4 linked regions of the Homo sapiens genome follow. The protein of the gene in region 4 purifies or fractionates together with the protein of the main gene of each other region. This does not show direct contact. Each region holds a gene or a part of one and is shown on either strand. Other genes may lie near its edges. The genes, in order: DDX11, MTO1, DHX40 and IARS2.

Evidence for each region.
Region 1: the proteins of IARS2 (region 4) and DDX11 purify together in Homo sapiens (affinity purification with mass spectrometry; 2 studies listed by BioGRID and IntAct, with this or other methods). This does not show direct contact.
Region 2: the proteins of IARS2 (region 4) and MTO1 purify together in Homo sapiens (affinity purification with mass spectrometry; 2 studies listed by BioGRID and IntAct, with this or other methods). This does not show direct contact.
Region 3: the proteins of IARS2 (region 4) and DHX40 purify together in Homo sapiens (affinity purification with mass spectrometry; 2 studies listed by BioGRID and IntAct, with this or other methods). This does not show direct contact.

Annotation. Positions count from the first base shown.
Region 1 is NC_000012.12:31,097,842-31,104,866, forward strand, and holds the end of DDX11 (ATP-dependent DNA helicase DDX11), read left to right. Parts: intron 1-43; coding exon 44-156; intron 157-335; coding exon of another isoform or gene 336-460; intron 461-2,718; coding exon of another isoform or gene 2,719-2,754; exon of another isoform or gene 2,755-2,793; coding exon 2,794-2,866; intron 2,867-3,130; coding exon of another isoform or gene 3,131-3,185; coding exon 3,186-3,289; intron 3,290-3,991; coding exon 3,992-4,141; intron 4,142-4,401; coding exon 4,402-4,470; intron 4,471-4,585; coding exon 4,586-4,686; intron 4,687-5,094; coding exon 5,095-5,179; intron 5,180-5,475; coding exon 5,476-5,554; intron 5,555-5,735; coding exon 5,736-5,890; coding exon of another isoform or gene 5,891-5,965; coding exon 5,966-5,995; coding exon of another isoform or gene 5,996-6,192; 3' UTR 6,193-6,958; downstream 6,959-7,025. UniProt on the Homo sapiens protein: DNA-dependent ATPase and ATP-dependent DNA helicase that participates in various functions in genomic stability, including DNA replication, DNA repair and heterochromatin organization as well as in ribosomal RNA synthesis.
Region 2 is NC_000006.12:73,457,591-73,464,736, forward strand, and holds the start of MTO1 (5-taurinomethyluridine-[tRNA] synthase subunit MTO1, mitochondrial), read left to right. Parts: upstream 1-4,146; 5' UTR 4,147-4,264; coding exon 4,265-4,481; intron 4,482-7,146. UniProt on the Homo sapiens protein: Component of the GTPBP3-MTO1 complex that catalyzes the 5-taurinomethyluridine (taum(5)U) modification at the 34th wobble position (U34) of mitochondrial tRNAs (mt-tRNAs), which plays a role in mt-tRNA decoding and mitochondrial translation.
Region 3 is NC_000017.11:59,596,585-59,603,609, reverse strand, and holds part of DHX40 (probable ATP-dependent RNA helicase DHX40), read right to left. Parts: intron 4,874-7,025; coding exon 4,759-4,873; intron 4,236-4,758; coding exon 4,127-4,235; intron 1,089-4,126; coding exon 994-1,088; intron 1-993. UniProt on the Homo sapiens protein: Probable ATP-dependent RNA helicase.
Region 4 is NC_000001.11:220,132,107-220,139,131, forward strand, and holds part of IARS2 (isoleucine--tRNA ligase, mitochondrial precursor), read left to right. Parts: intron 1-2,295; coding exon 2,296-2,404; intron 2,405-4,702; coding exon 4,703-4,805; intron 4,806-5,057; exon of another isoform or gene 5,058-5,160; intron 5,161-5,811; coding exon 5,812-5,937; intron 5,938-6,901; coding exon 6,902-7,025.

The sequences.
Region 1 (7,025 bases), on a different chromosome or scaffold from region 4:
TCTGTTGGGCTTGCACTCACCTCCCACCGATCTGTTTTTCCAGGCAGCCTCAGTCAGAGCACCCTGAAGTTTTTGCTCCTGAATCCAGCTGTGCACTTTGCCCAAGTGGTGAAGGAATGCCGGGCAGTGGTCATTGCGGGGGGTACCATGCAGCCGGTAAGGACACCTTTCCCAGCCCCTCGTGCCCCAGGTGTTGGGATGAGATGGGGGCTTGGGAGAGATGCATTATCAGTCCTGTTCTCTCCTGGGGCCCCAAGCCAGAAAGGGTCAGCTCGAGCAGGCCCAGTGGTGTCCGCTGGGTGACACTGCTATTCTCTCACTGCTGTGCCTTTTAGGCTGCAGGAGCAGTGGAGACTCCTCTGCTGCTCCATTCTGTAGCCCCAGGATCACATGTCTCCCAGAGAAAGCTGTTCTGTGGTTTCAAACTCAAGGAAAAAAATCATGATTCCACTTTTAAAAGGTTCATTTTGATGTATATGAATATAATAGTCTTTGTAGGCGTAATTTTTACTTATGTGCATAGCTGTTTTAAAAACAAAAGTACGGCTCCCTCCATGTGCTGTCACTGGAACTTGCTCTTTTCACTCAGCAGCCAGAGGGTCATAAACCCTGTCTCCTTGTCAGCAAGCATGCACGTATTTCAGTATCCCAGCTGTGCTGGATTCCAGTTACACAGATATATAGCATTTCATGTAGCTGCTTCTCTCTTGTTAGGTGTGCAAGCTATTTGCAGTTTTCTGTTTTGAGCATGACTGTGATAAATATAACCGCATTTCTGCACAGTGGTGACTCCTACCTAGCGAAGGGCCTCCTGGACAAAAAGCTGCTGGGAATCCTGAAGCAGTGCTTCCCAGCCCCAGCTGCCTTAGCTTTTGATTTTTATATTTTTGTATGGATAGATTCATAGTTTTATTCATTCGGCATATTAAAAGTTGTTTACAGTAATTATTGTTTCTGACGTTCACATTGTGAGAGCCCCTTCCTGCTAGCTCAGGTCCTCCCCGTGGCCCGGTCAGTCTCGCCTCCAGCACAGCAGAATGTCATGGGATCACCATGGGTGTCCTTTCCCCACACTGGATTGATTCATTTCTCCAAGCTGCTCTGGTTTCTTGTAATGGGGAATGACATTTAGAAGTCAAGCTGTGGGTGCTAGGGTGTTTGTCGTGCTCCTGGGGCGTTTTGGTAGACAGATCTAGGAAATGTTTTCAGAATGAATCCATACTGGTATTTCTTTCTTTCTTTCTTTTTTTTTTTTTTTTTTTTTGAGACACAGTCTCGCTCTGTCTCCCAGGCTGGAGCGCAGTGACCTGATCACGGCTCTCTGCAACCTCTGCCTCCGGGGTTCAAGCGATTCTCATGCCTCAACCTCCTGAGTAGCTGTGATTACAGGCATGTGCCACCACACCCAGCTAATTTTTGTATTTTAGTAGAGATGGGGTTTTACCATGTTGGCCAGGCTGGTCTTGAAATCAGGTGATCCGCCAGCCTTGGCATCCCAAAGAGCTGGGATTACAGGCATGAGCCACCACGCCTGGCCCATATTGGTGTTTCTAAGTAAAAATCAAAGGATTTGTTTACTTGACCTTTTATTGTACCTCTTTTTCTCTTAAGCCTGAACATGTGTGCTACATTAACATACTTATCTGCTCTATCCTATAATATACTTAAAAGTTTTGAAATCATAGTACCAATATTACTTCTAACAATAGATCTGATTGAAATTGCCTTTCCTCTTTGCCTTTAGAGTGTAACCCACTAAGGATGCCTGGTCACTAGGCTCTAAAGTCACGTGGAACCAGGCTTCTCTCCGTGTGCTTCTGTTGTCAGTTTCATAGATAACTAGGCTGTTTTTGTTTCATTTTCTTTTCAATTTTAGAATTTGCTTTTTTCTTTTCTGACTTGTAGTTTTTAAATATGTAAATATTTGTATGGCTCAAAAGTCAAAGCAATATAAAAAGATCTATTCAGGAAAGCCTCACTCTCATCCCTTTCCAGCCCATTCCCCACCCCCATAGGGAATCCGTTTTACTAGCTTATCCTTTCAGTCTTTCTTTTTCCCCTAAATAAGCAAAAACGTGTCTTCATTTTTCCCTTTCCTGTTTTATTTACACAGAAGGCATCTTAGTCAGTTGTCTGACCATCGCTCCTCTAGTGGGCTGCGTGGTTCTCTGTTGGACAGATGTAGGGAGCTTATCCAACCAGTACCCTCTGGATAGGCAGGCGCATGATTACAGGGAAAGGTCCGGGGGCACATGCTGTTTGGTATTTGTGGGCTGTATCTTCTCACTGGACTCCTAAATATGGGATTCCTGGGTTAAAAAGTATAAATATGTTTAATTTGTTAACTACTGTGAAATTTCATGAGAATTGTACCATTCTGTATCCCACCAGTACTGTCTAGGAATGCCTGTTTCTCCAGAGTGGTTACTTTTGGATTTTTGCCAGTCTAACAGGTGAAAGCCTGGAGATTCTTATTCAGTAGTTTGGGCTGGGGCCTGGCCATGTGTATTTTTGAAAATTTTCGCTGGTGATTTTGCTGCATGGCCAGGGTTGATAATGACTGTGCCAGATTTGCTGGATTTCCTTTGCTGTTCCTGCACATAGTTTAAACGAGACTGCCAGCACTGGGTATCAGTCACCATTTTTCTTTTTGTTAGTTTGCCATCAGCCTTTTCTTTGACCTCTTCTTTCAGTTTGTGTGTACTTGCTGTCTCTTAGCCCAGACTTCTCGCTTCCTTTCTGCTGGGCCTCTGAGGGGTCATGGGGCCGTGACGCTGTGGCCTTGGTCTACAGGTGTCTGACTTCCGGCAGCAGCTGCTGGCCTGTGCCGGGGTGGAAGCTGAGCGCGTGGTGGAGTTTTCCTGTGGTGAGAAGCTGTGCCCAGGGTGGGGCAGGCTAGAGGTCAGGTTCTGGCCCCCGTTTTCTGTGGGTAATACCTCATACTGCGACCAGGCACAGGGGCGGAGGAGACCCCGGGGTGGGAGCCTCACCCTTCGTGCGCTCGCCCAGGCTCTCCTGCTTTGCTCCCTGCTGCCTGCTGCCCAGTGTGACTGGTGATGGTGGGCGGGTGAGCGCTGTCAGTCGCTGTTCCTGTGCTGGATGATGGGGCAGGGAAATGCCCTCTCTGCAGTGTCTTGCAGCACACCTGCATCTCCAGTTTTCGGCCCCTCCCTGGCTCTTACCAGGTCACGTGATCCCTCCAGACAACATCCTGCCCCTCGTCATCTGCAGCGGGATCTCCAACCAGCCGCTGGAATTCACGTTCCAGAAAAGAGAGCTGCCTCAGATGGTCAGTCCCAGCCAGCTCGCCGCACCACAGCCTGGCCTCAGGCAGCAAAGGGTTTTCTGGGGCAGGGGCGCTCTGGCCCACCCTGAGTGTTTTCAGTGTTGGGGAAATTGCACAGGGACACCCGCTTAGAGCCACACAGAATGAGCGGCGTCGATCTAGATGCTTATGGAGGAAGGTCTGAGCTTCCCCGCCCCTCACGCCTTAGGCTGCGAAATATGTATTCATAAAACCTCCAGGCATCCTCTGAGGACGCCTCACACAGGAGAAAGCTGCTAGTTCCCTTTGGCTCTCTTGCCCTTTGGTTATATCTGCCCCTGCCGGGGGTAGGGATGTGGGGCTTGGGGGCATCTCCTGTGGTGTGCCTGGGGTGTGCAGCCCCTGATTGTCGTTGTGGTGCCCATCAGGACCCTGGACAGAAGAAGGGAGGACTCAGTGCCAGGGCAATAGGGAGGCCCCCTAGGGACGCTAGTGCTGTGACATGTGTCAGAAAGGCGCAGTCAGCAGCAGCGGCTGGGTGTGTTTGGTGGGAGGTGGCACCTACCACCCCGTGGTTCCCACCCAGGGGAGCCAAGTCCTCTTCCTTGGCTGTAGTCCTGCCGAGGGTCTCTCCTCAGTTTTGAGTCTCAAGGTGAAGACGCGGTTTGTGGGTGGCTGAGGGGTTGCTCCATGGGGGCTCCCTCCCTCCCTCCTTTCCTTCCTTAGATGGACGAGGTGGGTCGCATTCTCTGTAACCTGTGCGGTGTGGTTCCTGGAGGGGTGGTCTGTTTCTTCCCCTCCTACGAGTACCTGCGCCAGGTCCATGCCCACTGGGAGAAGGGTGGCCTGCTGGGCCGTCTGGCTGCCAGGAAGAAGGTGAGTGGCCTGTCGGCAGCCTTCCCACTTGTGAGGACAGTGCCACTGAGTCCTCCTGGGAGCTCTCGTGCTCATCGGGTCAGGACAGGCTTCTGGCTCCTCATCCCCACCGCTCCCAGTCCCTGACTACAGAGGATTTCCCCCAAAGTCCCTGGCTGTGAGGTTCTCCAGTCCCCTGGCCAGAAAACACAAGGCCACGAGCAGACTCGAGACCTGGCACCCTGAACCTGTCTCTGGGAAATGTCCTCTGTCTTTCTCAGATATTCCAGGAACCTAAGAGCGCACACCAGGTGGAGCAGGTGCTGCTGGCATATTCCAGGTGCATCCAGGTGCGGGCGTCATGCTGGGCTTGGGTCTGAGATCGTGTGGGGGTGGCAGCTGGAAACGTTGTGGGTGTCATCCAAGTTTTGGCTCAGCAACTCAGCGTCTGGGTTTCTCCTACAGGCCTGTGGCCAGGAGAGAGGCCAGGTGACAGGGGCCCTGCTCCTCTCTGTGGTTGGAGGAAAGATGAGTGAAGGGATCAACTTCTCTGACAACCTAGGCCGGTAAGTAGTGGTTCTGCTCGTCTCCTGGGCCGTGATACATGGCCGGCCCTCACTCCCAGCAGCTGGGCCCCTGCCTGCTCTCTGCTGCCATTAGAGCCCACAGCTGGGCTGCGACTGCTCAGACCAGCCAGCTGGAGGGAGGGGCTCAGCAGCTCTGGGTTTGGTCCTGGGAGAGCAGTTGGATTTTAGGCTACCCATTGCTGTATCAGGACCCAGTCAATTGGCCTAGACGGGATCTCTCAGCCGAACAAGCCCTCTCCAGGTGGTAGGTACAGAGTGGAGAGAGGCTGAGTTTTGATCACAGTCGGAGAGGCTGAGGGAAGGGGTAGAACGGAGCAGCTGGTGACGTGGGTGATGACCCGGGAGGTCCTGACGTCCACCTGCTGGGCTCTTGTCTCCCCCGCCCAGGTGTGTGGTGATGGTGGGCATGCCCTTCCCCAACATCAGGTCTGCAGAGCTGCAGGAGAAGATGGCCTACTTGGATCAAACCCTCGTGAGTGACCCCAGTGTCACAGAGGGTGACAGGAGAGTAGGCAGTGGGTGGGAGTGGCATCACCCCCAGGGCTGATACAGCCAGGCCTTCCCCGCTGCGCTGGCGTCTCCTGCCCCCTCCGGAAGCTTGGATGCCCCTCCACACCCTCTTGATCTTCCCTGTGATGTCACCTGGACCCCTGCTGCTGGCATTGGCCACGAAGCCTCCTGGTCTGGCTCCAAAGCCTGGCAGGGTCTTTTCCCAGGGGGAGCTGCAGGCAGGGAACAGTCCTGATGGGTCTTCCCCTTCACTCCCAGCCCAGAGCCCCCGGCCAGGCACCCCCAGGGAAGGCTCTGGTGGAGAACCTGTGCATGAAGGCCGTCAACCAGTCCATAGGTGAGCCTGGCTGCCTCCAGCTGGGTGGACAGATGGGGGCTGGAGAAAGGGAGAACAGGAAAGAGGGGTTGCCTGCCCTGTTTCCTATATAAGTCTGAGGAAGGGGAGGGGGTCGCCGTGGGAATGTGCTGTAGGGGGGAGGCAGGTGTTGCTCGGAGCCCCAGCCTCTGTTCCTATGCAGGCAGGGCCATCAGGCACCAGAAGGATTTTGCCAGCGTAGTGCTCCTGGACCAGCGATATGCCCGGCCCCCTGTCCTGGCCAAGCTGCCGGCCTGGATCCGAGCCCGTGTGGAGGTCAAAGCTACCTTTGGCCCCGCCATTGCTGCTGTGCAGAAGGTCAGTCCTACCTTTTTCTTTCTGAGAGCCTCCCCACCCCGAGATCACATTTCTCACTGCCTTCTGTCTGCCCAGTTTCACCGGGAGAAGTCGGCCTCTTCCTGATGGGCAACCACACCACTGCCTGGCGCCGTGCCCTTCCTTTGTCCTGCCCGCTGGAGACAGTGTTTGTCGTGGGCGTGGTCTGCGGGGATCCTGTTACAAAGGTGAAACCCAGGAGGAGAGTGTGGAGTCCAGAGTGCTGCCAGGACCCAGGCACAGGCGTTAGCTCCCGTAGGAGAAAATGGGGGAATCCTGAATGAACAGTGGGTCCTGGCTGTCCTTGGGGCGTTCCAGGGCAGCTCCCCTCCTGGAATAGAATCTTTCTTTCCATCCTGCATGGCTGAGAGCCAGGCTTCCTTCCTGGTCTCCGCAGGAGGCTGTGGCAGCTGTGGCATCCACTGTGGCATCTCCGTCCTGCCCACCTTCTTAAGAGGCGAGATGGAGCAGGCCCATCTGCCTCTGCCCTTTCTAGCCAAGGTTATAGCTGCCCTGGACTGCTCACTCTCTGGTCTCAATTTAAAATGATCCATGGCCACAGGGCTCCTGCCCAGGGGCTTGTCACCTTCCCCTCCTCCTTCCTGAGTCACTCCTTCAGTAGAAGGCCCTGCTCCCTATCCTGTCCCACAGCCCTGCCTGGATTTGTATCCTTGGCTTCGTGCCAGTTCCTCCAAGTCTATGGCACCTCCCTCCCTCTCAACCACTTGAGCAAACTCCAAGACACCTTCTACCCCAACACCAGCAATTATGCCAAGGGCCGTTAGGCTCTCAACATGACTATAGAGACCCCGTGTCATCACGGAGACCTTTGTTCCTGTGGGAAAATATCCCTCCCACCTGCAACAGCTGCCCCTGCTGACTGCGCCTGTCTTCTCCCTCTGACCCCAGAGAAAGGGGCTGTGGTCAGCTGGGATCTTCTGCCACCATCAGGGACAAACGGGGGCAGGAGGAAAGTCACTGATGCCCAGATGTTTGCATCCTGCACAGCTATAGGTCCTTAAATAAAAGTGTGCTGTTGGTTTCTGCTGAGTTTTTTATTGATATGTGCTGCTGTTTTCTCTGGAAGCCTCTTTAGGGAATCGAGGAGCGCACTGGT
Region 2 (7,146 bases), on a different chromosome or scaffold from region 4:
ATCAGTTTCTAAAGTCCCCTTAAGTCACTGGTGGTTTCTTTAACCAGAAGCTGCAAGCAACAATCCACTGGGCCAGATCAAATATCTCTACTATTGGCCTACCAAAGGAGGAGAACTCATTCTTTATTCAACCTTTCTGCAGCAATCAGTGTCCAAATCACAGAGAAAATGACTGTTTAGTTGAGTCTTGATGTGGAACTTGGATTTTATCTAGTAGGAAACCCCAGGAAATTTATTTGTGGGTATATATTTTATCTAGTTGACTTTACCACTTCTTTTTTTTTTTTTTTTCTGAGACAGCATCTCACTCTGCCACCCAAGCTGGAGTGCAGCAGTGCAATGTCAGCTCATTGCAGCAATTCGTACCTCAGCCTCCCAAGTAGCTGGGATTACAGGCACACGCCACCACCCTGGCTAATTTTTGTATTTTTAGTAGAGATGAGGTTTCACCATGCTGTCCAGGCTGGTCTTGAACTCCTGGCTTCAAGTGATATGCCCACACTGGCTTCCCAAAATGCTGGGATTACATCTTACTCTGTATGCCTCATGTTTATCTCTAGTCAGCCTTGGGTATGAGAACATCTGGTAGAGCCTACCTCAGTCATAAGCCCAGAAAGTGATCTCCCTGTGACTTTGGAGCCTTGACCTATCTATAACCTGTCCACAGCCTTCTAGACAGAGAAACTAAAATTCCCACCTTGCCTGCATACAGCTGCCTGGGCCAGAGAATCATACCCCAGAAGCTGATCCTTTTGCAAGCCCCTCTGTGAAGCCCACCTGTGGCCCAGGAGGTCTACACAGAGCTGCTTCTTCCTCTGTAAACCCCCCACTTTGCACTGCACATGCTTTCTAAAGGCTTTCTGTACTTGAGATATGAACGCCTTCCCACTTTAATTTTTGGATACTTTCCCTCATCCCTAAGGTATCATCTAGAGTTTCCTTATGTCTTATTGTTATTTTTTTTGGATAGAAAAGTGTTCATGATTATTAAGTAAAGAATAGATTACAAAACAATGCACACACTATGATCTAATTTTTATTAAAAAATATTTAACCGAAGTTGCAGAAAGCGAAAAAAAAAATTTAAAGAAAAAAATATCAAAAATAGGCTGGGAGCAGGGCTCACACCTGTAATCCCAGCACTTTGGGAGGCTTTAGGCCAGGAGTTCAAGACCAACCTGGGCAACATAGTGAGACACTCCCTCCCTCAACCCCATGTCTACAAACAAACAAACAAAAAACAACAACAAAGAAACCAAATTAGCCAGGCCTAGTGTCCACCCACATCTGTGGTCCCAGCTATTTGGGAGATGGAGGTGGGAGGATCACTTGAGCCCAGGAGGCGGAGGTTGCAGTGAGCCATGATAGCGCCACTGCACTCCAGCCTGGGCAACAGAAGGAGATCCTATTAAAAAAAAATAAAGAAAAGAAATAATGTTTACTGTTTTTTGTTTTAAGGGTTTTTGTTTTGTTTTTTTGAGACAGGGTCTCAGTCACCCAGGCTTGAGTGCAATGGCACCATCTGGGCTCACTGCAACCTGTGCCTCCTGGGTTCAAGCAATTCTCCTGCCTCAGCCTCCTGAGTAGCTGGGACTGCAGGCACGCAGCACCATGCCAGGTTAATTTTTCTATTTTTAGTAGAGATAGAGTTTCGCCATATTGGCCAGGCTGGTCTCAAACTCCTGGTGGACTCAAGTGATCCGCCACCTTGGCCTCCCAAAGTGTTGGGATTACAGGTGTGAGCCACCACTCCCGGCCTATGTATTTAATACTTTTTATAATTAGAACAATAAAACTGCCACACTGTAGGGAGACCCCTGAAACTATTGCTACGGAATAAAAGATGAAATGCTCCTGATTATTGTAAATACAAAGTTGCATGCAGGATTGTGTAAAGAGAATGCCAGGTTGGACTGCCAGAATGAGCCAACAGCGGGTGATGTGCTTCCCCCTGCAGAGAGCCTATGAACGGACGTGCATCACCAAGATTCCTATCCCAGAAAAGCAGATGTTCATAGCTCTGGGAATGGAATGCAACCCTTGTGGAAAGCCTCTAAACGGACGCATGAGGGGCGCCTGTCCCTGTGGGTAAGATAGGGCTATAAATGCCCTCATCTTGCCACGGCTCTTCTAGGCCTTTTTAGGGTTAAGGCATACTCCCTTCTGAGAATTTCTGGTCTAACTGATTGTCTAGCTTCACATCCTGTTTCTATGGATTGTTTGTAACCAGCTTTTGCTGCAACTGTTACTGCTGATTAATATCTTGCTAATCATAGGTTATGGAAAGACTGTTTCTGTTTTAAGGCTCTGTTAGAAATTACTGATGCACACAATATATTGTAAATTCTTATCTCTGTATACTGTACTTCTGCATACAGATGTTATGTTAAAGAATTACTTCATCCCCATGTGACCATCTCACCTCATAATCAAATGACCCTAAATCCCTCACTAACCTACCCCTGCCCTCACTAAACTTAATAATAAATGCTGGTATATCCAGTGTATTAGCAGCATTGCAGGACCAGAAGGCAGTGACCCCCCTGGACCCAGCTTTCAATATCTTCTGTGTGTCTATTATTTCTCGACCTGCCAATCCGCCTGGGAACAAAGAAAGAGCCCCATTGCATTGTGGGCTGCTGGCCAGATCCTGCAATACCACACTTGTTTTATTCTCCAGTCAAACGTTGCCTTTCTGAGAAAGGCTGTGAATTGAGAAAGGCTGTGAATTCCAAAAGGCTGGACATTTAACCTCCAACCAACCGATTCTTCTAATTAACCAATTAGCCATCATGAATCTCTCTCTCTCTTTTTTTTTTTTTTGAGACAGAGTCTCACTCTTGTCGCCAGGCTGGAGTGCAGTGGCACGATCTCGGCTCACTGCAACCTCTGCCTACGGGTTCAAGCAATTCTCCTGCCTCAGCCGCCCAAGTAGCTGGGACTACAGGTGCATGCCACCACACCTGGCTAATTTTTTTTTTTGTATTTTAGTACAGACGGGGTTTCACCATGTTGCCCAGATTGGTCTCGAACTCCTGAGCTCAGGCAATCTGCCCCCTTCGGCCTTCCAAAGTGCTAGGATTACAGGCGTGATCCACCATGCCCAGGCACCATCATGAATCTTTCAGTCCACAAATATATTTGAACTCCTTTCGAATCTATTCTTTTTCTTTTCTTTTTCTTTTTTTTTTTTTGAGACGGAGTCTTGCTCTGTCGCCCAGGCTGGAGTGCAGTGGCACAATCTTGGTTCACTGCAACCTCGGCCTCCCAGGTTCAAGCGATTCTCCTGCCTCAGTCTCCTGAGTAGCTGGGATTACAGGTGCATGCCACCACTCCCGGCTAATTTTTTTTTTTTTTTTTTTTTTTTTTTTTTTTAGTAGCGATGGGGTTTCACCATGTTGACCAGGATGGTCTCCATCTCCTGACCTTGTGATCCACCTGCTTCGGCCTCCCAGAGTGCTGGGAATACAGGCGTGAGCCACCGCGCCCGGCCCGAATCTATTCTTATTTTCAGCCCTTAGTTTTTATAGACAAACAGAAGGTGACGGTGTATCAGATTGTCAGATCACAAAGATCTGATAAGGCAAAGTGATCAAATTCATTGATCGTAGGTGGCCACCTGGCGATAAGGACTGCAGGGCCTAAGAAAGTACAAAAGATGACCTTTAGTAGGAGCTCCCAACCCAGAACCACAGGAAATCAAAAAAAGCCCGCACGGGCGGATCACGAGGTCAGGAAATCGAGAACATCCTGGCTAATACGGTGAAACCCAGTCTCTACTAAAAATACAAAAAATTAGCCGGGCGTAGTGGCGGGCGCCTGTAGCCCCAGCTACTCGGAGGCTAAGGCAGGAGAATGGCGCGAACCCGGGAGGGGGAGCTTGCAGTGAGCCGAAATCGCGCCACTGCATTCCAGCCTGGGCAACAGAGCGAGACTCTGTCTCAAAATAAATAAATAAATAAATAAATAAATAAATAAATAAATAAATAAATAAATAAATAAATAAAAATAAAAAATAATAATAATAAAAAAAGCCCGCACGAACTAGGAAAGAAAATACACAACCGGCCCTCCGTGCGATCACCCATCTCCCTCACCAGGAAAGTAGCTCCAAACCGCCAATCAGCGGCGACGCTGGACGTAGACGTCCTACCCCGTGATATTAAAGCAAGATGGCCGCGCCCTGCAGATTGTCTCTTGTTGCGTAAGTTTTTTTGACCGTCACTCGTGTCAGCTTCAAAGTCAGATAGATTTTTCTCCCAGCATGTTCTACTTCCGAGGCTGTGGCCGTTGGGTCGCGGTTTCCTTCACCAAGCAGCAATTTCCGTTGGCACGGTTGAGCAGTGACAGCGCGGCGCCCCGGACTCCGCACTTCGACGTGATAGTCATTGGTGGAGGACATGCCGGGACTGAGGCAGCCACCGCCGCCGCTCGGTGCGGCTCTCGGACTCTGCTCCTCACTCACCGCGTGGACACGATCGGTGAGGAGCGCGGGTGCTGTGGAACTTGGCGTAGGACGCAGGCTGCTTCCTTCCCGCCTCCCCCGGTCTGAAGCGGGGGACCTCTTCCTTTCCTCAAAGCTAGTGAGAATCCTACCTTCTGTGGTTTTAGCCTCGATCAGTGTCTCGCAAGGATCAGGCGGGCCAGGCCAGAACTCTATATTAGTCTATTCTGCGAACCATAGATTATGCTGCTGCTGACAGTCGTCCGTTGTAGGAGGTTGGGGTTCGGGGTCAGTGCCTTGGGAAAGGGAGCTACCAACTACTCGCTGGTAGCTTCTTAGTTCATTGCTGCGTTTACCTTCTACTATGTTACTCCAGATAAAGGGTGAATTAACATTATTAACAATGGTTTATGGCCAGGTGCAGTGGCTCACTTCTTTAATCCCAGCACTTTGGGATGCCAAGGCAGGTGGATCACCTGAGGTCAGGAGTTTGAGACCAGCTTGGCCAACACGGCGAAACCCCGTCTCTACTAAAAATACAAAAATTAGCCGGGCATGGTGGCGGGCGCCTATAATCCCAGCTACTCGGGAGTCTGAGGCAGGAGAATCGCTTGAACCCGGGGGCAGAGGTTGCAGTGAGCCGAGATTGCGCCACTTCACTCCAGCCTGGGCAAAAGAGCAAAACTCCGTCTCAAAATAATGATAATATTAATAAAATAAAAAAATCCTTTATTAAACGGTTCTTGTGTTTTTATTTAAAAACATTTTTTTAGAGACAGGGTCTCGCCATGTTGCCCAGGCTGGAGTGCAGTGACTACTCATAGGCACGATCGTTGCACATTACAGGCTCCGCTTTCTGGACTCAAGAACTTTTCCTGCCTCTGCCTAACCAGTAGCTGGGATTGCAGGTGCTCAGTACTCTGCCCAGCCTGATCTTTGTGTTTCTGTCAAGATTTTGTGATGCCTTTTGGAAGAACCATGCTACCTTTTTTTTTTTTTTTTCTTTTGAGACAGAGTCTTGCACTGTCACACAGGCTCAAGTGCAGTGGCGCCATCTCGGCTCACTGCAAGCTCCGCCTTCCGGGTTAATGCCATTCTCCTGCCTCAGCCTCCCGAGTAGCTGGGATTACAGGCACCCACCACCACGCCCGGCTAATTTTTTTTTTCTTTGTATTTTTAGTAGAGTCGGGGTTTCACCATGTTAGCCAGGATGGTCTCGATCTCCTGACCTTGTGATCCGCCCGCCTCGGCCTCCCAAAATGCTGGGATTACAGGCATGAGCCACCGTGCCCAGCGCCATGCTACCTTTTGCATCCTATATTCCTTCTGGGTTGTCGTCCCTGGATTTTGTGTTTAGTACTGGACAGTACTTTTTTTGCTCTAATGGGTAATGGTTGGATGGCCGTTCTGTAGCATCATGATAGATACTAGCTAAAACATCAACTTGTAAATTATGTATACTTTTGTCTTTCCTCCTTCCTTTTGCTTAGGAGCGAGCAGTAATTAGAATATTTACTTGTTTTGTAAAAGTTGTGAATAAATCACTTATTTATTCCTGAAATTCTTCTTTAAAATAACCATTCAGCTCATAACTGTGAAGAAATATATACTATTAACTGCGGTTTTGTGGGTGGGGGAGAGGAGGCTATATGATTTCCTAAAAGATTATACTTTTCTCATCATACATTCAGGTGGGTTTTTTCTTTTCTTTTCTTTCATTTTTGAGACAGAGTTTTGCTGTTGTTGACCAGGCTAGAATGCAGTGGCGCGATCTTGGCTCACTGCAACCTCCACCTCCCGGGTTCAAGCGATTTCCTGCCTCAGCCTCCCAAGTGGCTGGGATTAGAGGAGTCTGCCACCACGCCCAGCTAATTTTTTGTATTTTTAGTAGAGATGGGGTTTCATCATGTTGGCCAGGCTGGTCTCCAACTCCTGACTTCAGGTGATCCACCCGTGTCAGCCTCCCAAAGTGCTGGGATTACAGGTGTGAGCCACCACACCTGGCCTGTTGTTTATATTTTTAAAAAATAAAGACCTAGTGCTTGCTTTGGCAACAACATAAACTAAAGTTGGAATGATATAGGGATTAGCATAGCCCCTGCACAAGGATGATGCACAAATTTGTGAAGTGTTCCATATTTTTAAAAAATAATAATAAAATAAAGACCTAGGCCAGGGGTGATTACTCACGCTTGTAATCCCAGCATTTGGGGAGCCCAGGAGTCTTCTATTTCAAAGGAAGAAGGAGGAAAATAATCTACCACAGCTGTCATTCCTGTTTTTACAGTAGAGAGACTAAGGTATGTTAGGTAACTTGCCATGATCACAGAGCTCATAAGTGGTAGGTCTAGAAATTGAGCCAGATATCTCTTTCACACACACTCCTCATAATGACACTTCATGCTCATAATCACAGTGCTATCCAGTCTCCCTGTGGAGACCATTAAAACTTGTGGAGGTCTTGTCTGGGCATGGTGGCTCATGCCTGTAATCCCAGCAGTTTGGGAGGCAAAGGCGGGCAAATCACCTGATGTCGGAAGTTCGAGACCAGCCTGACCAACATGGAGGAACCCTGTCTCTATTAAAAATAGAAAATTAAACACCCAAGAATGATCAATAAATACTAAAAAAAAAAAAAAAAAGAAAGAAAATTAGCCAGGCGTGGTGGCGTATGCCTGTAATCCCAGCTACTTGGGAGGCTG
Region 3 (7,025 bases), on a different chromosome or scaffold from region 4:
ATAATAATCCGCTACTATCACTACTTATTTTGATGCTTAAAGTGTCTCATATTTGATTACTTGGGGCCTCTTCATGCTGGCTCCTATGTTCTTCTGACGTGGCCTCAACCTTTGTTAATCACTTCTTTACTTGCTGGCAAAATAAGATATTCTGGGCTCATCTTGCATTTTCCCAGCCCCATTTCTCCAAAGACCCCTGACTCCTTTAAGTGGCAGATGGATGTCCCAAGTCAAGATCTGGGCACTATGTCTATTCATTGTTATTATCTCAGAGCTAGGGCATATATACATATAAATATTTACATACATACAAATACATTCTATATACACACACTAACATCTATTTTTATTCCAGTGTCCATCCATGCATCCATCTATAATGAAACCCATAACTTCATCATGATACACTGAAATTTCAATCCAACAGCACAGAGATCATTCCTATTTTCTCACTTTCGCTATTTCTAACTCCCTTCACCATTATCACTCACAGAGTTATGTGTTCAATTCCTCTGTATTTAATGAATCTCCATCACCATCACTGTTACCCCTTTCTCTATAAAGATGCCTTCCTCACTACACTCTGACTGATGCCCCAAACCAAATAACCCCTCCCCACCTTGCTCAAGCCCTAGCACTCCATGCCAAGCTACCCTTCCTCAGGGATGCTATGCTCAACCTACTTGGCTTTCACACTATACACAGGGCCACCTCTCTGAAAGAAAACTCTTGTTACTTGCCTTAAGTGAAGATAACCCATGCTGGACAGCCACCCTACAAACATACCCCTCCTACCCTACTTGAGCTCTAATACCACATTCTGAGCCACTGCAGCTCTCCCTCGTCACTGTAGCTCTCCCTCGTCACTGTAATTCATGTCATAATCATCACAGAGCTTAAATCAAATCTTCAATGTTTAATATTAAATAGTCCAATATTATAGTCAAATACAGTATTATATCTTGATCCATCTCTCAAGTCTTTATTGCTTACCTTCGAGCTACATTTTTGAAATAGCCCGCACAAAGACATCTTCGTAGTACTTCATGTTTAGGGCCTTCAAAGGTCTCTTTTGGGAAATCACTTTGCTATAAAAAGAATATGTAGAGAGTGGTAAATCTCATAGTACAATTTGAAATAATCTTTTATTTTGAAAAATCCACATTTCTAAAGACCTCTGTTTCTGGCCAACATAGATTAAGAGAGACCAGATTTACCCTTCCACCTGAAACCAAAAAAATGGAAAAAATACATGAAATAATGATTTCCAAAACACTGTAATATCAGGCAATAAAGGACAGAGACAGGAAATAAACGCAGTACGCCCAACAACTGCCCCAACTTCAGCCTTGATAAAGACTGCAGACCAAGGTACAGGGAAGTAAAGCCCAAATGGAACTCAGAGAACTCCCTGGGTTAGGGAGAGAAAGCTGGGAGTCCAGGAAGACCAAGGTGGCTAGAATTCACAGGACAAGAGTTCAGGAGAGAAGAGAAGTGCACAAAGACACAACTCCAGAGAGATGCAGAAGGTCCTCCTCAAGTGTTGAGCTGAGTAGTGATTAGCACATGAATGTGAGGAAACTACCAGCCCAAGAAAAGAACCTCTTAAAAGGATAAGTAAGGGCATGGTGTTTTCACAGGGCTAGTAATGGCGCCTGTTCCTATAAGCCACATGAGAATACTACACTACAGTAATTCATGTGATGTTAGGAAGAGTACTCAGATGGGCCTTGCCTCAGTAGAGGGGAATAACTAGCCCTGCACTGAGCACTGCTCTGATCCCACCTAACAAATCATGCAAGCAAGACCCAACAAGAAAGACCAAAGACCATTTCCAAGTAACTAGAACACAAAAATATCCAGCACCCAACAAGGTGAAATTCACAATGTTTGGCATCCGCTGAAAAATTATCAGGTATGATGTAAAGAAGCAAAAAAACACAATCCATAATGAGGACATCTATCAAAATCAACCTAGAACTGACACAGATCTAATTATATTTTATTATAATTTTCTGTATAGCTGGATTACATATGTTCAAAAAGTAGAGACCTGAAAAATAAAATGTAAAAATTTAAAGACTGAAATCCAACATCTAGAGATGAAAATACAACACCTGAGATGACAAATATACTAGATGGGATTAATGGCAGATTAGACTAGACACTGCAGGAGAAAAGATTAATGAACTTTAAGATAAGGCAAACAGAAAACACTCATAACGAAACAGAGAAATTATAACAGTGGTTTCCAGAGGCTGGAGAAAGAAGATAATGGGTAGGTTTTTTTGTTTTTGTTTTGAGTCAGGGTCTTACTCTGTCACCCAGGCTGCAGTGAAGTTGTGTGATCACAGCTCACTGTAGCCTGGATCTCCTAGGCTCAAGCAATCCTCTACCTCACCCTGCTGAGTAACTGACACTACAGGTGTGTGCCACAACGCCTGGCTAATTTTTTTTTTTTTTTTTTAGTAGAGACAAGGTCTCACTGTGTTGCCCAGGCTGGTCTCAAACTTGCTGGGCTCAAGTGATCCCCACACTACGGCTTCCCAAAGTGCTAGGATTATAGGCGTGAGCTACCATGCACTGTCGGGAATGGGGAGTTATTGTTGAATGGTTATGGAGTTTTATTATAGTATGGGATGATAAAAAAAAGTTCTGGAGATGGAGAAGTGGTAAGGGCTGCACAACATTGTAAATGTTTTAAGTGTGCAGTGACCTGTACGCATAAAAACAGTAAAAAAAAAAAAAAAAAAAAATTTTTTTGAGACAGGGTGCTGCTGCTCTGTTGCCCAGGCTAGAGTGTAGTGGCATCATACCTCACTGCAACCTCAAACTCCTGGACTCAAGTAATCCTTCTGCCTCAGCCTCCTGAGTAGCTAGCACTACAGGTGTGTGCCAACACAACAAGCTAATTATTTTAATTTTTTTGTAGAGACAGGGTCTCACTGTTTCTCAGGCTGGTCTTGAACTCCTGGCCTCAAGTGGTCCTCCCACTTCGTCCTCCCAAAGCATTGGGATTACAGGGGTTAATCATCAATGCCCAGTAGAGGTAAATTTTATATTAATTATTTTACCAAAATAAGATATATAAATTGAAAAACTAATAATCATGAGGAGTAAAAGATGCCAGACCAAAAAAAAAAGAGCATATACTGTTTGATTCCATTTATGTAAAATGCTAGGAAATGCAAACTTATATACAGTAAGTCTTCAATGTCAATGATAAGTTCTTAAAAACTGCAAAGTTAAGCAAAATTTTTAAGATTTTTTTTTTTCTCTCATCAGTGTTAAAACAATGGTGAATAAAACAATATTTTTCTAGGGCCTGCTGTATATCATTTTGCTTAAACTCACAGTTTCCAAGAACCTACTGATGACATTAAGTGAGGACTTACTGTATCATGACAGAAAGCAGATTAGTGGTTACCTGGGTTGGTGGGGCAGGAGGGCCTAGTAGGTGAGACAATGGATTATGAAAGGGAATGAGGACAGGTGCAGTGGCTCATGCCTGTAATTCCAGCACTTTGGAAGGCCGAGGCAGGTGGATCACTTGAGGTCAGGAGTTTGAGACCAGCCTGGCCAACACGGCAAAACCCCATCTCTACTAAAACTACAAAAATTAGCCGGGTGTGGTGACGCAAGCCTGTAATCCCAGCTACTTGGGAGGCTGAGGCAGAAGAATTGCTTAAACCTGGGAGGTGGAGATTGCAGTGAGCCGAGATCACGCCACTGCACTTCAGCCTGGGTGACAGAGTGAGACTCCATCTCAAAAAAAAAAAAAGGTGGGGGGGAGGATGAGAAAACTGGGAGATGATGGATATGTACCATTATCTTGATAGTTGTTTTACGCAAATGTCAAAACTCATCAAAGTGTATACATTAAATATGTGTAGGTTATCACACGTCAATTATATATCAGGAAAGCAATTTTTAAATATCTTCATTTCTGTGAAGACAATTCTTTTATCACTACTAGGAATGTTTCATGGGGTCAAGGAGGTCATAGAAACAAATAGAATGGAAGGGTGGTAGAATAGAAAGGGTGCTAATGTACATCAATGAAACTTCAATATGAAATATATAGGTCCAAAATGCTACTCAAGAAAAAAAACATTACGGCAATCACCTGTTTAAGCTTCCTGATTAGTTCTCGAAGTTGAGCTTCCACACGAAATGCAGAAAATAAGCACCTCCAATGAATCCAGTGTTTTTGGCACCATGAAGCTGGAGCTCCACTGCAAAACAAAAAACTGGTATCTTTAAAATATCTTCTCTAAGTAAAAGACAATCTAAAATTCTCATTTCTATTACAAAAGTGGAAACCCATAAACAACTGTCAGTTCCTTCAGGAGACCTGTCCAAGTACTAAAAAAGAATTTTAGGAAACTTGAAAAAAACATTTAAATTAATGAATGTGCCCCTGACTAAATTAAAAAATAATTTGTAAATGGATTTCTTTACTTATATATGCAATAACAAATATCCAATCATTTTTTAATCTAGGCTACCTATATAGAAGCAAAATTCTATAAGGTCATTTTCAGTAAAGGTTTGAGGAGAAAAGAAGAGAATCAATGTTATATAATAAATGCCTACTAAGCAATAGTCATCTGACATAGATAATTTCACTGAAATTCAAAATACCTTGAAGTCAATATCATCTTCACTGAACGTTAGTGTCACAAGCCACATCATAAGTACGTATTGGAACTATACATCAAATTGACATTTTTCAGGACAAAGGACTACCTTACATACCTTGATTTGCATTGTTCAAAGATGACAGCTAAAGTTGCAAAGTCATTAAATCCTCCAGCTTTAGCTGCCAATTCTCGATGTCTCTGTTCTGCTTCCTTCTGGTACTCTGGATCAACTAAAAGAATTGGAGAGGCAATTCAGTTATACTTTGCATTAAGTGCCTACAATCACTTTGCTTTCAGAAACTCATTAAAATCTGCCTCATCCTCTGGGGTGAAGTAAGGTAGAACTATATTAACTCTTCTTAACTTCTCTTAGGAAGCTCTATTTCTCCCACAATTCCTTTTTTTCTTTTCATATCACTTTGGAGATTTTACCTGAATAGCAACATTACTTCTCCCAATCTATTTGCCTTTTAAAAATAGTATTTGTAATTTACTTTTTAAATTAGTTTTGTTATAAGAGTAATCCATGCTTACAGAAAAAAAAATGTAATGGTATAAAAGAATATCATGTAAAAGTTCAATGTTCCCCAGTCACACTACCCATAAACCAATCCTCAAGACAAAGTACTGTTCATTATTTAGTGTGTGTCCTTCCAGGTAATTTCTATGTATATATAAGCATATGTACATAGTGTTTCATTTTTCTATAAATGGAATATATAATCTGAAAATTTGTTTATTTAATAACAACTCCATATCAGTACATATAGAATTATTCTTTCTCAAAAATAGCAATATAGGGCCAGGTGTGGTAGCTCACACCTGTAATCCCAGCAATTTCAAAGGCCAAGGCAAGTGGATCAATTGAGCCCAGGAGGTCAAGACAAGCCTAGGCAACAAAGCAAGATCCTGTCTCTACAAAATATACAAAAATTAGCCAGGCATGGTGATGCATGCCTGTAGTCCCAGCTACTCAGGAGGCTGAGGTGGGAAGATCGCTTGAGCCCAGGAGGTTTTTTTTTTTTTTTTTTTGAGACGGAGTCTCGCTCTATCGCCCAGACTGGAGTGTAGTGGCGCGATCTCGGCTCACTGCAAGCTCCGCCTCCCGGGTTCACACCATTCTCCTGCCTCAGCCTCCCGAGTAGCTGGGACTACAGGCGCCCGCCACCGCGCCCGGCTAATTTTTTGTATTTTTAGTAGAGACGGGGTTTCACATGTTAGCCAGGATGGTCTCGATCTCCTGACCTTGTGATCTGCCCGTCTCGGCCTCCCAAAGTGCTGGGATTACAGGCATAAGCCACCGTGCCCGGCCCAAGCCCAGGAGGTTGAGGCTACAGTGAGCCGTGATCGCATCACTGCACTTTGGCCTGGGCAACAGAGTGAAACCTTGTCTAAAGAAAAAAACAATGATATGGTATTCCCCAGGAGTATGGGGAACATAACACAATTTAACCAGTTCTTATTTATCCAATTCCCAATTATGGGCAATTAGACATGATCTCCATATATGCAGAACTGACCTACTACGAACATTTTCTTTTTTAATGTAATATTGAAGTATAATATGCATACAGAAAATTACACAGGACGTAAGTGTGTAGCTCATATAATATTCACAAACACAACATACCAATGTACCCAGATCAACAAACAGTATCACCAGCATCTCAACAGCCCCCTTTTATGCCCTCCTTCGAGTAACTACCCATTCCCTTCCACAAGAATAACTATATCCTGACTTCTAATCCTACAGATGGGTTTTGCCCATTTTTAACCTTTGTATAAATGAATCGTATAGTATGTACTTGATGTGTCTGTTTTCTCTTGCTCAACATTACGTTTTTGAGATTTATCTGTTAATTACTTCGATACCACTTCCCCTGATCCCATTCAGGACTCATGTGCTCTCTGATTGCCCAAATTCCCCATACAGCACTTTATCCAGGGCTAATCTTTCAGAGTGCCATTTTTTCAAAACTGCATAGGGATCCTTTCCTTCAATCTAACACGTCACATCACAATTCCTATTCCCTATACCTATCACAGCTAGATCTAGCAGAGGCACAATGTTGCCTGAATCCAGGGAGCAGCATTTACTATAGAATACGATGTGAATCTGCAAAGCAGCAGTTCCTGTTACTAGGAGGAAAGTAATTTGATTAAAGAAAACACTGATGAAGGTATAAAGTCTTCTATCCCATGCTTTAAGTAGCTTCCAACTATGTTACCTAGGTAGCAACTGAATGAAGCAGCTAGAGACAAAAAAATAAAAAAGAATATGATTTATCTCAGACCATACAAACATACAAATGACCCTGGTAAGGAAAAGATATAAATGATTATTAATCTCCATTTCTTGAACTGCTCCGGGAGACTAATTTT
Region 4 (7,025 bases):
TTTGTGTCTTTGTTCAACAGAGATACTGGCCTGTAGTTTTCTTTTTTGTTGTGTCTTTGCCTGGTTTTGGTATCAGGGTAATGCTGGCTTTGTACAGTGATTTAAGAAGAGTTTCCTCCTCTTCGATGCTCTGGAGTAGTTTGAGCAGAATTGTTGTTCTTTATATATTTGGTAGAATTCAGCAGTAAAGCCATCTGGTCCTAGACTTTTCTTTGTTGGGAGATTTTTTGTTACTTATTCAGTCCGGTTACTCCTTACTGTTCTATTTCTTCCCGGTTTAATCTTGGTAGGTTGTATGTGTCCAGGGGTTTATCCATTTCCTCCAGGTTTTCCTATGTGTTAGTGTACATTTGTTTATAGTAGTCTGTGATGATCCTTTGTATTTCTCTGTTGTCTGTTGTATGTCACCTTTCTCTCTCTTTTTTTTTTTTTTTTTTGAGATGGAGTCTTGCTCTGTTGCCCAGACTGGAGTGCAGTGGCCTGATCTCATCTCACTGCAAACTCCACCTCCCAGGTTCAAGCAGTTCTCTGCCTCATTCCTCCCAAGTAGCTGGGGTTACAGGTGCCCGCCACCATGCCTGGCTAATGTTTGCGTTTTTAGTAGAGATGGGGTTTCACCATCTTGGCCAGGCTGGTCTTGAACTCCTGACCTCGTGATCCACCCGCCTTTGCCTCCCAAAGTTCTGGGATTTTACAGGCGTGAGCCACCGCACCCAGCCCCATGTCTCCTTTTTCATTTCTGATTTTGTTTATTTGGATCTTCTTTTCTATTTTCTTAGTCTAGCTAAAGATTTGTTTTCACTGCATATGCATTTACCTTCTTACATTATCTCAGACTTTCCTGGCTGCACAGACTAGATTAAACTCTTTATTTTCCCCTTGGTAACACCCATCACAGTTATTTCTTTTCTTTTTTTTTTTTGAGACAGATTCTTACTCTGTCGCCCAGGCTAGAGTGCAGTGGCACAATCTCTGCCCACTGTAACCTCCACCTCCCAGGTTCAAGTGATTCTCCTGCTTCAGCCTCCCAAGTAGCTGGGATTACAGGCGCCCACCACCGTGCCCAGATAATTTTCGTGTTTTTAGAGATGGGGTTTCGCCATGTTGGTCAACCTGGTCTCGAACTCCTGACCTCAGGATTTGCCAGCCTCCACCTCTCAAAGGGCTGGGGTTACAGGCACGAGACACTGCACCCGGCCCCATCACAGTTATTTCTTGCTTAACATAAAATCTACCCTACTAGGTGTCAGCTCCAAGAAGGCAGAGTCCAGATTTCCCCAGGGTCTAACACAATGCCTGCTATATAACAAGTGCTCAGTAATATTGGTGCAATTGAATTGGTTTGATTCAGTTATTTAAATTTTGTTTCCCCACCTCCACTCAGTTAATCTTTCTTACATGAAGATTACAACACTAAATTTTCAGTCTTAGGACATAAGGACAAATCATAATTTTACAAATAAAAGGGATTATGGGGGCTTTGAGAGTTGTGAGTTTAGATTTAAAATATAGATGTAATCTTTATCAACGACCTCATGTTACTTTTTTTTGAAAACCCTTTTATTTTGAAAAGTCATAAAGTATCATGAAGAATTACAGCATGCTCTTCATCTAGATTTCCCAACGTTAACATTAACATTTTGCTACAGTTGCTTTATATATCCTATGTATATATATGTAGAGGAAAAGATGCATCTTTTATCTCAATATTTTAGTATATATTTCCCCAAAACATGGATAGTCTCTTAACATAACCAACACAGATATCAAAATTAGGGAATTAACATTGATTCCATACTGTTAACTGTCTATAGAACTTATTCCTAGGTGGAAAGAGGAAAAAAAAAAAAGGACCCAAGATCTAATCTGAGATCACATGTCACATTTAACTGTCATGTCTCTCTAGTTCTTGTTCTGTGTCTTTCATGACATTTCATGACATTGCTTGACATTCATGCAGTACAGGTTTATTTTGTAGATGGTCTCTCTGGGTTTGTGGGATGCATTGTCATGATTAGATCCACGTTATGCATTTTAGGTAGGAATATCACAGAAAGGATACTGTGTTTATTTCAGTACATCATTTCAGAAGTCACGTGATACATCTCTGTCCCATTACTACTGGTGATGTGTAACTTTGGTCACTTTCTTGGTTAAGGTGGCATCTGTCAGTTTTCTCTATTGTAAAGTTACTTCCCTTCCTCCCCACTAATTGTTATTAATAAGTATCTTCTTTTTCTATTTTAATTAACTTAAATTTCTGGGTTTTTTTTTCTTTTAATACTTAATTTTGAGGTCCTGACCAAAGAGCAGATTTGTACTTGGAAGGAAAAGACCAGCTCGGGGGTTGGTTTCAGTCATCCTTATTAACAAGTGTGGCAGCAAGGAAGAGAGCACCTTATAAGTAAGTATTTATGCCTGAACCAACCTGCTGAGTACCTGCCAGTGTGTGAAGCACTATGCTGAGTACTACAGAGATGATAAGGCACCACTCTTGATTGCTTACAGTGTCCTGTAAGAATTTGAAGTAAAAAAAGAGAAAGGAAAAAGGAGACAACACCAAGGTGTCTTGTGAGTGTGATGCAGATCATAACTCTTTGAAGAAAAAGTCAGCATTGACTGGAGTAGTTGGGGGAACTTATGTAGTTCTTTGTTGTTGTTGTTTTTTTTTTTTTTTTTGAAAAAGGATCGCATTCAGTCACCCAGGCTGGAGTGCAATGGTGTGGTCAGAGCTCGCTGCAGCCTCCGTCTCCTTGGCTCAAGCAATCCTCCTGCTTCAGCCTCCTGAGTAGCTGGGATTACAGACATGCACCACCACACCTGGCTAATTTTTAATTTTTTTTTAGAGGTGCGTTCTCCTCCCATTGCCCATGCTGGTCCCAAACTCCTGGCCTGAAGCAGTCCTCCTGCCTTGGCCTCCCAAAGTGGTAGGATTATAGGCGTGAGCCACCATGCCTGGCCTAGAACTAGATCTTGATCTATGGTAAAACTTGACTAGGAGGAATGTAGGGAAGGATATTCAAGGTTGAGAGAAGACAGCCTGAGTGCAGATGTCCTTTATATTTGTAATATCCACAGTGGCTAGTGAACTGAAACATTGCTTTCATGAATTTTATTAAATTAGGTATTCTCATTTAGTACACATAATTACTTTTTCAAACGTGTGGGTGAAAGTACTAATCAGAAAGATTCCTAAATAGCTTAGCTTAAGATTGTGGCTCTCTTAGGATAAAAACCCATCCCAGAACATTTCACATGTTTCTTTTTTTTTTGAGATGGAGTCTTGTTCTATTGCCTAGGCTGGAGTGCAGTGGTGCGATCTTGGCTCACTGCAGCCTCTGTCTCCCGGGTTCAAGCGATTCTCCTGCCTCAGCCTCTCGAGTAGCTGGAATTACGGAGCATGCCACCATGCCCGGCTAATTTTTGTACTTTTAATAGAGACGGGATTTCACCATGTTGGTGAGGCTGGTCTCAAACTCCTGCTCTCAAGGGATTCACCCTCCTGAGCCTCCCAAAGTGCTGGGATTACAGGCGTGAGCCCCCACGCCTGGCCCTTTTACATGTTTTTGTTTCTTAACATGCGTTTTAAAGACCAGTAAAAGGGCAGATCCTATTTTTTTCAAATTGTCTTTTGAAAATAATTTTGAGATGATAATCTGCTCTTTTTAAGACATACTTTTTCCTGGTTTTATTTTTTCATTTAAAATTTTTTTTTTTTTTTTTTTTTAGTGAGTTATATAGTTTTTCCGCTATCACCACAAGAGGTTTTATAACATTTCCAACACACTAAAAAGTTTTCTCATGCCCATTTGTGACTAATCTCCACTCCCACCCCAGGGCCCCTGGCAACCACTGATCTCCTTGCTGTCTCTGTAGTTTGCTCTTTCTAACCTGGTTAGTTTTAATGATAAAATCAGTACATAGCAGAAGCTCAGAAAATAATCTGTTTAGTGATGAAAATATCTAAAGTTTTCCTTTGTGTAAGTCGAGAGTTAACTGTTTGACTATTGTGATACATGAGCTAAGAATGACTTTTTTTGTTTGAGATGGAGTCTTACTCTGTCTCCCAGGCTGGAGTGCAGTGGAACGATCTCAGCTCACTGCAATCTCCGCCTCTTGGGTTCAAGTGATTCTCATGCCTCAGCCTCCCAAGTATCTGGGACTACTGGCACACACCACTATACCCAGCTAATTTTTGTATTTTTAGTGGAGACAGGGTTTCACCATGTTGGCCAGGCTGGCCTCGAGCTCCTGGCCTCAAGTGATCTGCCTGCCTTGGCCTCCCAGAGTGTTGGGATTACAGGCGTGAGCCACTGCACCCAGCCGAATTTGACTTTTAAGGAAAGGTTTCGGCCGGGCAGGGTGGCTCATACCTGTAATTCCAGCACTTTGGGAGGCCGAGTTAGGTGGATCCCCTGAGGTCAGGCGTAGGTAGGAGAATCCCTTGAACCTGGAAGGCAGAGGTTGCAGTGAGCCGACATCATGCCACTGCACTGCAGCCTGGGCAACAAGAGTGAGACTCCATCTCAAAAAAAAAAAAAAAAAAAAGAGAAGAAAAGAAAAGAAAAGGTTTTATTCATAATCAGTCAAGAAAAATCATATTTTTGTGTCAAACTTAGATACTCTTTTTAAGCTGTACCTAATCTTCAAAAAGATAATTATAATTGTGTTTATCATTAAAATAGCTGATTTGTCCCTTTAGGACAGTGATTGTTCATGGATTTACCCTTGGAGAAAAGGGAGAAAAGATGTCCAAGTCTCTTGGGAATGTCATTCATCCTGATGTTGTCGTTAATGGAGGACAAGTAGGTGATTCTCTAAAATGTATTTTATTTTCGTTTTAAGGATCTTAAATTGGCAGCCAAAGCCCTTAATATAGTTACTTCAATGTAAAAATAAAAACTATCTTTTATACTCTCAAATAACACATGATTGTAATGAAGAAGGCAGAGGCTGGGATTGTGGTCCTTTTAACTTATTTCAGGCCTGACTCTCCAGTTAGGTCCCAAACCACGCTGTTTCTTTTTTAATTGTCTGAGAGCCTTTAAAATGTGTAGATCCTTTTGTGATTCGTAAGCGTGATGATTGGGTTTTCGCACTATTGTGTGAGGTGTGCCTCCCTCAAACCTTGTTACAGTGTTGGCACATTGCTGTCTGAAGTGAAAAAAGAATATGTAAAGTGTGATTGTGTAGTTAAATGGAAATGATGAAAAATGAGATTGCAACTTCAAAATGCGCATTTCATTATTATATTGTTGAAAATTATACACTTTAAAGCAGGTCCTAAATGTACATCAAATCTGAGGTTGCTGATAATTTGGGGGGGTTTTTGGAGCTGCTTTTGTGAATTAAATCATTTGTCTGTTTTTTTCTATTTTTTAACTCCTGTAGCTTTTTACTGCCCGCCTAACATCCTGTAACCGTTCATTGTTTTGTGTACAGAGTTGCTAGGAAATAGTGAAAGGAAAAGCAGTCCTTCCTCTTCCCCTCCCTTATTATAGAGACCTCCCTGGCACTGCTGTGTGTCTAACCACCAGCTGTAATAGAGGAAACAGACATGACCAGGGAAGAGATTAGGTATGAGCATTTGTGCATTGAACAAGATTGCAGAGCACGCTCTTTCTTTTTCCAGTTTTGTTTTTAGATACAGTCTAATTTGAGATTGTTAGCCCGCATTTCATTACAGTGCTAGTATAGTTTGTACTTACATTGTGCTCAAAAATATCTGAATAGGAGCTTTACCTAAAACATTTGTTCGGCTAATTGGAATTGAAAGCCATTGTGTTTATATATTTTTTTCTCAATGAAAAGGATCAAAGCAAAGAGCCTCCGTATGGTGCTGATGTCCTTCGCTGGTGGGTAGCTGATTCCAATGTCTTCACCGAAGTTGCAATTGGCCCATCCGTGCTCAATGCTGCCAGAGATGATATTAGCAAGGTTAGAACTATTATTCTTCCTATTTCTAAAGGACAAGTTTGTCAAATCATTGTTTTAAAAAATGAGACACATTTTGTTTGGAACTGAAAAAAACTGAATGAAAACGAGTTCTTCATTTATTGTGAGATTTTAAGAATCTCCTGTGTTGGCCAGGCATGGTGGCTCATGCCTGTAATCCCAGCACTTTTGGAGGCAGAGGCAGGTGGATCACGAGGTCAGGAGTTCGAGACTAGCCTGGCCAACATAGTGAAACCCTGTCTCTACTAAAAATACAAAAATTAGCTGGGCATGGTGGCATGCACCTGTAGTCCCAGCTGTTCGGGAGGCTGAGGCAGGAGAATCACTTGAACGCAGGAGGCGGAGGTTGCAGTGAGCCGAGATCGCGCCACTGGACTCCAGCCTGGCGACAGAGCAAGACCTTGTCTCAAAAAAAACAAAAAACTCCTGTGTAAATTTATTTGTTTCAAAACATTGGTAGTAATACCAGTAATTTTATATAATTTGTATATAATATCCTTTATATTTTATTAATATATAAAATGTAATATAGCATAGTATAGATTATATTAATTTTGTATACTTTTATGTACTCAATAACCTTTCACATTTTTCCATGTATCTTTATTTCATTGTGAAGCAAGTGAAATAACATTATTCTGACCCACACACATGAATAAACTGGGCTACTGAAAGGTGATTTGCCCCAACGTAATAAAGAAATATAATGAAAATTCAGTCGTTAGGCGTAAAATCCAGTGGTTGTTCCTATAACTGGGCTATTGGAATAAGAGTTTGTTGTGTACTTTTTGTTTTTTATTTTTTTACATTTGTAGTCTTATTTGGAATGATAATAAAAATACCCCACTAAGAAAATGACAAGAGTTAGTAATAAAATAACTTTTCAGTGAAAATTGAAGGCACCATTAGATTTTTTTAACTGCATATTTTTTCTTCCTATGAATAGCTTAGGAATACACTTCGCTTTCTTTTGGGAAATGTGGCTGATTTCAACCCAGAAACAGATTCCATCCCTGTAAACGATATGTATGTCATAGACCAGTACATGCTACACTTACTGCAGGATTTGG